Homo sapiens: one gene and its partner. The protein of the gene in region 1 interacts with the protein of each later gene in a pairwise test. Each region holds a gene or a part of one and is shown in the gene's direction. Other genes may lie near its edges. The genes, in order: MAPK8IP3 and BTG3.

Region 1 (3,823 bases):
CATCTCCAGCTCCTACAAGGACATAGCCCCATTGGATTAGAGCCACCACGTGACCTCATTTTACCATAATCACCTCTTGAAAGGCCCAGCCTCCAAATACAGTCATGCTAGGGGGTATCTATTAACATATGGATTTGGGGAGACACAACTAAGGCAGTAGCCTGCGTCACCCCACGGCACACAGCCCCACTAACCAGTAACCTGCATCGCCCCACGGCACACAGCCCCACTAACCAGTAACCTGCATCGCCCCACGGCACACAGCCCCACTAACCAGTAACCTGCATCGCCCCACGGCACACAGTCCCACTAACCAGTAGCCTACGTCACCCCATGGCACACAGCCCCACTAACCAGTAACCTGCGTTGCCCCACGGCACACAGGCCAGTGAGGGAAAGAGAAGAGGGGAATGAGGGCCGAGAGGAGGTCCAGCCACTGGCTTGCTTGGACGTGGGATCTCTGGGGACTGGGCTTACTGCTGACACTCCCATGCAGAGAGGCTGCTGCAACCCACCCCGCTCCAGGCCCCGCCTCAGACGTCTACTGTGCTGGGGTTCGACCTCTGCCCAGTCAGCCTGGGAAGAGCTGTTTTCTGATCATCCCCACCTAGCAGGTGGTCCAGCTCCAGCCCACCAGACTCAGGTTCCGAGGGCAGCCGTGAGCAGGGCAGAGGCTGCCAGACCCTCTCCTGACCCCAGGTGCCCCTGTGCTCTCCCCTAGGCATGGGCAGCAGTGACGAGTGGTCTGATGTTCAAGACATTATTGACTCCACGCCAGAGCTGGACATGTGTCCAGAGACCCGCCTGGACCGCACAGGAAGCAGGTACTGGCTCAGCCCAGGCCCTGGGGTCCTGGGGGCTCAGTATTTATCCAAGTCGGTGTCTTTGGTGAAGTCTTCCTCTGCCACCACTGGGAGAACCATCAAGGCTGTGGCCTACCGCCTCCATCCACGACCGGCCTGCAGGGCAGTGTGGGCATTGAATGGCCACGGTGGGAGGTGTTGGAAGAGTCTGCAGACGCAGCCACTCCGGGCTGCCCACTGACTCTGCTCTCTCTCCCGACCTGTGGATCCCAACAGCCCAACCCAGGGCATCGTGAACAAAGCTTTCGGCATCAACACCGACTCCCTGTACCATGAGCTGTCGACGGCAGGGTCTGAGGTCATCGGGGATGTGGACGAAGGGGCCGACCTCCTAGGTAAGCGCAAGCCTTCCCCCGCACCGCTGTGCCTGCACAATGCTGGGGCTTTCTGCTGTTGGTTTTGTTTGTAATGAAAGGAAAGTCCTCTGTCAGCTGTGAGCTAGGAACCTTTTTTTTTCCAGCTTTGTTGAGTTGCGTTTCACATGGAATTGTCCCTCCATCTCCACAGGGGATTGGTTTCTGGACTGCCCCAAGGATGCCAAAATCTGAGGCTTCTCAAGTCCCTGCTCTGAAGTGGTGTAGTGTTTGCACCCTCCCGTGTACTCTAAATCACCTCTAGGTTATGTTGTAGATGCTGTGTAAGTAGTTGCTGTTATGCTGTGTCGTTTAGGGAATAATGACAGGAAAAAAGTGTACACGTCAGTACAGACACGGCCACCACAGGCCTGTACATTTTCTGTGAGGCTGGTTGAATCCACACATGCAGAACTCGTGGGTATTGAGGGTCGACTGTATCATAAAATTCACCCGCTTCGAGTGCACGGTGCGGTGGGTTACAGCGTACTCACAGGTGGGGCAGCCACCCCCATGATCTCAGTTTAGAATGTTCCGCCATCCCTAAAAGAAATCCATGCCTGTTAGCCTCGCCCCATCTTCTGCACACACCCTCAGGGCTGCCAACTCTCCAGGAGGTTGGGAGGGTGCCCGCTTCTCTGCTCTGTGCCCATTAGCCTCGCCGCACACCCTAGGACCATTGACTTTGGAGGAGGTTGGGAGGGTGCCCACTTGCCCACTCCTCCGCAGACAGCCCTGGCTTCACCTCAGCGCCACAGGTCTACACCGGACCCCTGTGCCTAGGTCTGTGGCGGCTGCAAACATCAGGACCTGCTTCCTGTCAGCACGTGGAGTCTCCTGTGCTCATGGCATCTGCTGGCAGCTGAGCACTGGCCATGTGGCTCTGAGCCCCAGGCTTTCAGGCATGACAGGCGGGCAGTAGGACAGCGCAGTCTGTCCCCTTGCACGCGTCAGGGTCCGAGCCTTTCGCCATGGCCTTGCTTCCCCCAGCCCGCAGGGTGAGAAGCTCCTGGATCCCAGGCTGCCTCCTGGTGTACTCCTGAGCTGATTGTCTTATCTGGGGCAGGGGGACCTCCAGGGAGCAGAGTAATGTGGGGTGCTGAGCACCAGCAGGGCCTCACCCTGACAGGGAGGCCTGTCTCATCCTGGCTTGAGTCAGAAAGTGCCCCAGTAGAGGCCATGTATGAGTAACATAATATTCACCATGTTAACCGAGTTGAAGTGTTCAGTTCAGTAGTGTTGGACACACTGTACTTGGTGGTGAAAGATGGAATGCTCCCCGAGATCAGGACGGCGGTGAGGGCGCACTTTGGTGCTGTGAATTTTCTGTGGAACTTTTCTCATGTGTTGCAAAAATATATATAAAAAATCCAAAGGAGATTAATCTTCAGAAAAATCCTGCTAAATAGGGGTAATCTCTTTTAATATTTTGCTATCCTTCCACTCTACATAATTCAGATAATGTTTATTTATTTATTTATTTATTTATTTCTTAGACAAAGTCCCGCTCTGTCGCCAGGCTGGAATGCAGTGGCGCCATCTTGGCTCACTGCAACCTCCGCCTCCCAGGTTCAAGCAATTCTCCTGTCTCCGCCTCCCAAGTAGCTGGAATTAGAGGCACGCGCCACCACGCCCGGCTAATTTTTGTATTTTTAGTGCAGACGGGGTTTCACAATATTTGCCAGGCTGGTCTTGAACTCCTGACCTCCGGTGATCCACCCGCCTCAGGCTCCCAAAGTACTGGGATTACAAGTGTGAGCCACCATGCCCGGCCGATAATGTATATTTTTTAGCTATTTTTTTTATTTTTTGAAAAAATTATATATGCTTATAATAATATTTAAATAATATCAGCAAATGCCAAGAAGAGAGTAAAAACCAGAGGGAACCTCCCCACCATGCTATAATGATTTTTTTTTTTTTTGAGACGGAGTCCCACTTTGTGGGCCAGGCTGGAGTGCAGTGGTGCGATCTCGGCTCACTGCAACCTCTGCCTTCCCGGGTTGAAGCAATTCTCCTGCCTCAGCCTCGTGAGTAGCTGTGATTACAGGCATGCACCACCATGCCCAGGTAATTTTTGTATTTTTAGTAGAGATGGGGTTTCACAGTGTTGGTCAGGCTGGTTTTGATCTCCTGACCTTGTGATCCACCCGCCTCGGCCTCCCAGAGTGCTGGGATTACAGGCGTGAGCCACCACTCCTGGCCGATTGTTTTAATGTCTTGGTGACACCTACCAGACACCATGGCCCATGGCCCACAGAGGTATGACACATGTGTACGCAGAACACACAGTGTCAGGTCGCAGCTGCCCTTCTCATTGTGGGCGGTGTCATTTCCGTGGGTGGCAGCACTGACGGGCACGGCCACCGTCGGTCCTTACTGCAGCATCAAGCCGCCCTCCTGCCAGTGTCCCCATTTATAGATGAAGAAACTGAGGCCGGGCACAGTGGCTCATGCCCGTAATCCCAGCACTTTGGGAGGCCGAGGCGGGTGGATTGCTTGAAGTCAGGAGTTTGAGACCAGCCTGGCCAACATGGTGAAACCCATCTCTACTAAAAATACAAAAAGAAATTAGCTGGGCCTGGTGGCGGGCACCTGTAATCCCAG
Region 2 (3,823 bases), on another chromosome or scaffold:
AAAAAATCAGCCAGTGGCGCATGCCTGTAATTCTAGCACTTTGGGTAGCTGAAGTGGGTGGATCTCTTGAGCCTAGGAGTTTGGGACCAGCCTCAGCAACATGGTGAAACCCTGTCTCTAAAAATGTATATAAATTAGCTGAGCATGGTGGTACACTCCTGTAGTCCCAGCCTCTTGGGAGGTTTGAAGTTGGAGGATCGATCACCTGAGCCCAGGAGGTAGAGTCTGCAGTGAGTTGTGATTGTGCCACTGCACTCCAGCCTGGGCAACAGAGTGAAACCCATCTCAAAAAAATAAAAATACATCAGAATGTTTTATTGTACAACCAATTTCATTGGTACATACAAAAATGTAATCAAAACAATGGACTTTTTTTGATGTTTTAAACAATTTTTTTTTTAGGAATTAGTAGAAAGAAAATAAGGGAAAGAAAATGGGGTTATGTTTATGAATACTTAAATAGACCAGAAGTAGAAAACTGTGGTTTGCTTGCTGGCATTGAGCTGTATTAGGATATTAAATGTGTAGGGTCAAGTTCTGTGATGATTCAATCTTTGCCTTGTATTGATGGCATGTCCAGATCTCTTTGTTTTTATGGACATTTTTTGCTTTGCTGATGTGACTTCAAGATTTGTAAGTTTTTAATTTTATTCTTAGGTATGGAGAGAAAAACAATGCATTCATTGTTGCCAGCTTTGAAAATAAAGATGAGAACAAGGATGAGATCTCCAGGAAAGTTACCAGGGCCCTTGATAAGGTTACCTCTGATTATCATTCAGGATCCTCTTCTTCAGATGAAGAAACAAGTAAGGAAATGGAAGTGAAACCCAGTTCGGTGACTGCAGCCGCAAGTCCTGTGTACCAGGTAACCATGAAAACAGCTCAGTTTTAAAGGGATGTGCAGGGATTGCCAGGACCTTTCAGGTAGTCCTACTTGGCATTGCCCAAGGTTTCTGACTTGAGATTCTGGATAATAGTTCTTGCCTTTCCCCATGCTAAGGGAAAGCTGTTTCTCTGGCACGTAAATAGGCATCCTGAGTCATTTTATCAAAGGTCAGCTTCACTATACAATAACTAGGATAAATATATTTCAGAAAAATTGGCAAAAAGTAGAAAATTCATGATGGTAAAACATTCCTGATATTTTAAAATCTCATTCAAAAGTTACCACTTATTTTTTGTAGTATGTAACACTTTGTTTTGTACCTTTGGGTTTAACTTTCTATTCTCTCCCGTTCCATGATTAAAGAGAAACCTCTCTAAATTTATTATATTATAATTAATATTTTACTCAAGCTGAAACATTGTCTCCCTTTTTGCTTTACTAGTTGAAAAGTCATATAGCTAGTGTGCCTGCACTTACAGATCCATTCACTGATTTACTATTTATATCTACATACCAAAGAACATTTAATCGACTTTAAAAAATTGTTGACCAAACAGCATTCTTCAACAGGAAAGATATTTTAAAGTCATAACAATTTAAAGAGATTTTTTGAGTTGAGCCTTATTCTGTAAATGTACTTATTACTAATTTTTAAAGGTTATCTATTTTTACTTACTTGCTTTGATTAAATGTGAAACATACCAGGTTTGTGGTAAGGTTGAGCTGAAAATGAAAATTTAGACCTAATGAGTAAGAAGCAGAATATTGGAGCTTTTAGTATGATAAACTAAACTTTTAAATTCAGCATACATTTACATAATGAACATTATTTCAGTGTAACTTAATTTTTGGTTTTCTCATTTTTTTCTCAGTTGAATTATTCTTCCTAGACTTTAGGGGAAGATTATTTCTGAAGATTATCATAATTTAGGATTCTATGTATATGTGTATGTATATGTATATGTATATAACATGTACCTGGCTTTATGAAACTTCAAACAGTACAAGACAGTATAATAGTGAGAAGTCCTCTTTCTCCCCAACCACCAGTCCCTATGCATTTCCACAGAGACATTCATTACCAGGTTTTTTTTTCTTTTTTTTAGTATCCTTCCAGAGACATTCCCTATATAAATAAGTAAACATAGTATTTGTACTTCAGGATCATTTTTAAAAACCTTGCCATAAATATTTGAGGCATTTTTTTTCTCTGTGTGATGGATTATATATTGCAAATTAGGTATATTGAATTTTCTGGAATTCATCCAAATGTGTGGCAATTTTACCTCAGAATTTTATTTGTTGTTAAGCAAGAATGTAAGTCTCAAATTAAATTGATTGCTGCTAATTTTTTACAAGCAAATTAACCTTTAATTTTTAGGATTTCTTTTAAAATTAAATTGCATTTATTTTCCCTCATGTTGAAAGACTATTAGGATAACAGAAAGGTATGGAAATTGAGGTGTCTCTTACGTGCTTTTTAAGGAAAACATTTCTCCTTGGCCTAATACTCATTAGCAAAACATTTTATAATAGAGAAACACTACTTGTGTGAAAGCTAGTGCAAATGGCCCACTTTGATTTTCTTCTTTCTAGTATCTTGAATCTGGCATTGCCACAAGCTTTAAAAAAGTTTTATCAAATAAGGACAACAAAATTTCTAGCTTGGAATTTTTGTTCTCTACTGTTTTCTAAAAGGTATCCCAAGAGAGGGGATAAAGAATTATTCATATCTTAAAAAACGAAGAAATGAAGATTGTGTCAGTTCTCCTGAAATAGATCTGTAGATCCAATTCAGTATCAATGAACATCTTAAAAGGTTTTTTTCTGGAAAGTGACAAATTGATTCAAAATTTTAAAAAAGGAGGATCAGTTGGAGGGCTCACACTAATTCAAAGCTATTATATATTCATCAAGACAGTGTGGTAATGGTTTAAAAACATACAAATATATTGATGGCACAGGATAGAGAGTCCAGAAGTAGACCCACATACATACAGTTAGTCTTTTTTCTCCCTTTTAACAAAAGTGCCAAAGCAATTCAATGGGGAAAGTCTTCAAGAACTTGTGCTGAAACAACTGGATGATCTGTGTAGGAAAAAAAACGAACCTAACTTAGCTGACACCATACACAAAAATATTGATTTGAGATGGATTGTGTACCTAGACATAAAAGATAAATCTCTGACGCTTTTAGAAGAAAACATAGGGAAATATAATCTTTATTTTGTGACAGGCAAATATTTCCTCTAGAGGGTCACAAAAAGTAACTAATAAGGGAAAAAAATTGACAAACTGGACTTCATCAAAATTAATCATCTTTTTGTTCATCAAAGAAACCATTAAGAAAATGGGCAAACCATAGACTAGGACAAAATATTCTCATTACATATATCTGTAAAGGACTTATTTCCAGAATATACTTTTTTTAAAATCGCTCACAAATCACTAGTAAAAGGTAAATGATTCAATGAAAAATAATGGGCATATCCTGCTGTAATCTCAAAAAAAGGGCAGGAGGAGCAAAAGATGTGAATAAACACTTTACAAAAGGAGTTATGTGAATGGCCTCATTTATGATCAGAGGAATGCAGATTAAATCCATATGAAACACTAGTTCTTCCAGAACTGCACAATTTAAAAGCCTGACAGCATGAAATGTTAGCAAGGATGTGAAGCAGCTAGATTCATAAACTTGCTAGTCATGTAAAATAGTACCACTACTTTGGAAAACTGGAACTTTTTAACGTTAAATGTGTAACTCTTCTATTACTCAGCAGTTCCACTCCTAAGTATTAAATATTTACCAAAAGAAACGAAAATATGCCTATAAAGCCTTCTATTAGAATTAACTGTGCTGTTATTCATTGCAGCATTGTTTTGTTCGTTGTGTATCATTGTTTTTTTAATAGTAAGAGACTGAAAACAGCCTCAATG

What was found.
Region 2: the proteins of MAPK8IP3 (region 1) and BTG3 interact in a two-hybrid assay, tested with the Homo sapiens proteins (one large-scale study listed by BioGRID and IntAct).

What each region holds. Positions count from the first base shown.
Region 1 is NC_000016.10:1,747,523-1,751,345, forward strand, and holds part of MAPK8IP3 (C-Jun-amino-terminal kinase-interacting protein 3), read left to right. Parts: intron 1-721; coding exon 722-824; intron 825-1,079; coding exon 1,080-1,198; intron 1,199-3,823.
Region 2 is NC_000021.9:17,595,659-17,599,481, reverse strand, and holds part of BTG3 (protein BTG3), read left to right. Parts: intron 1-657; coding exon 658-865; intron 866-3,823. UniProt on the Homo sapiens protein: Overexpression impairs serum-induced cell cycle progression from the G0/G1 to S phase.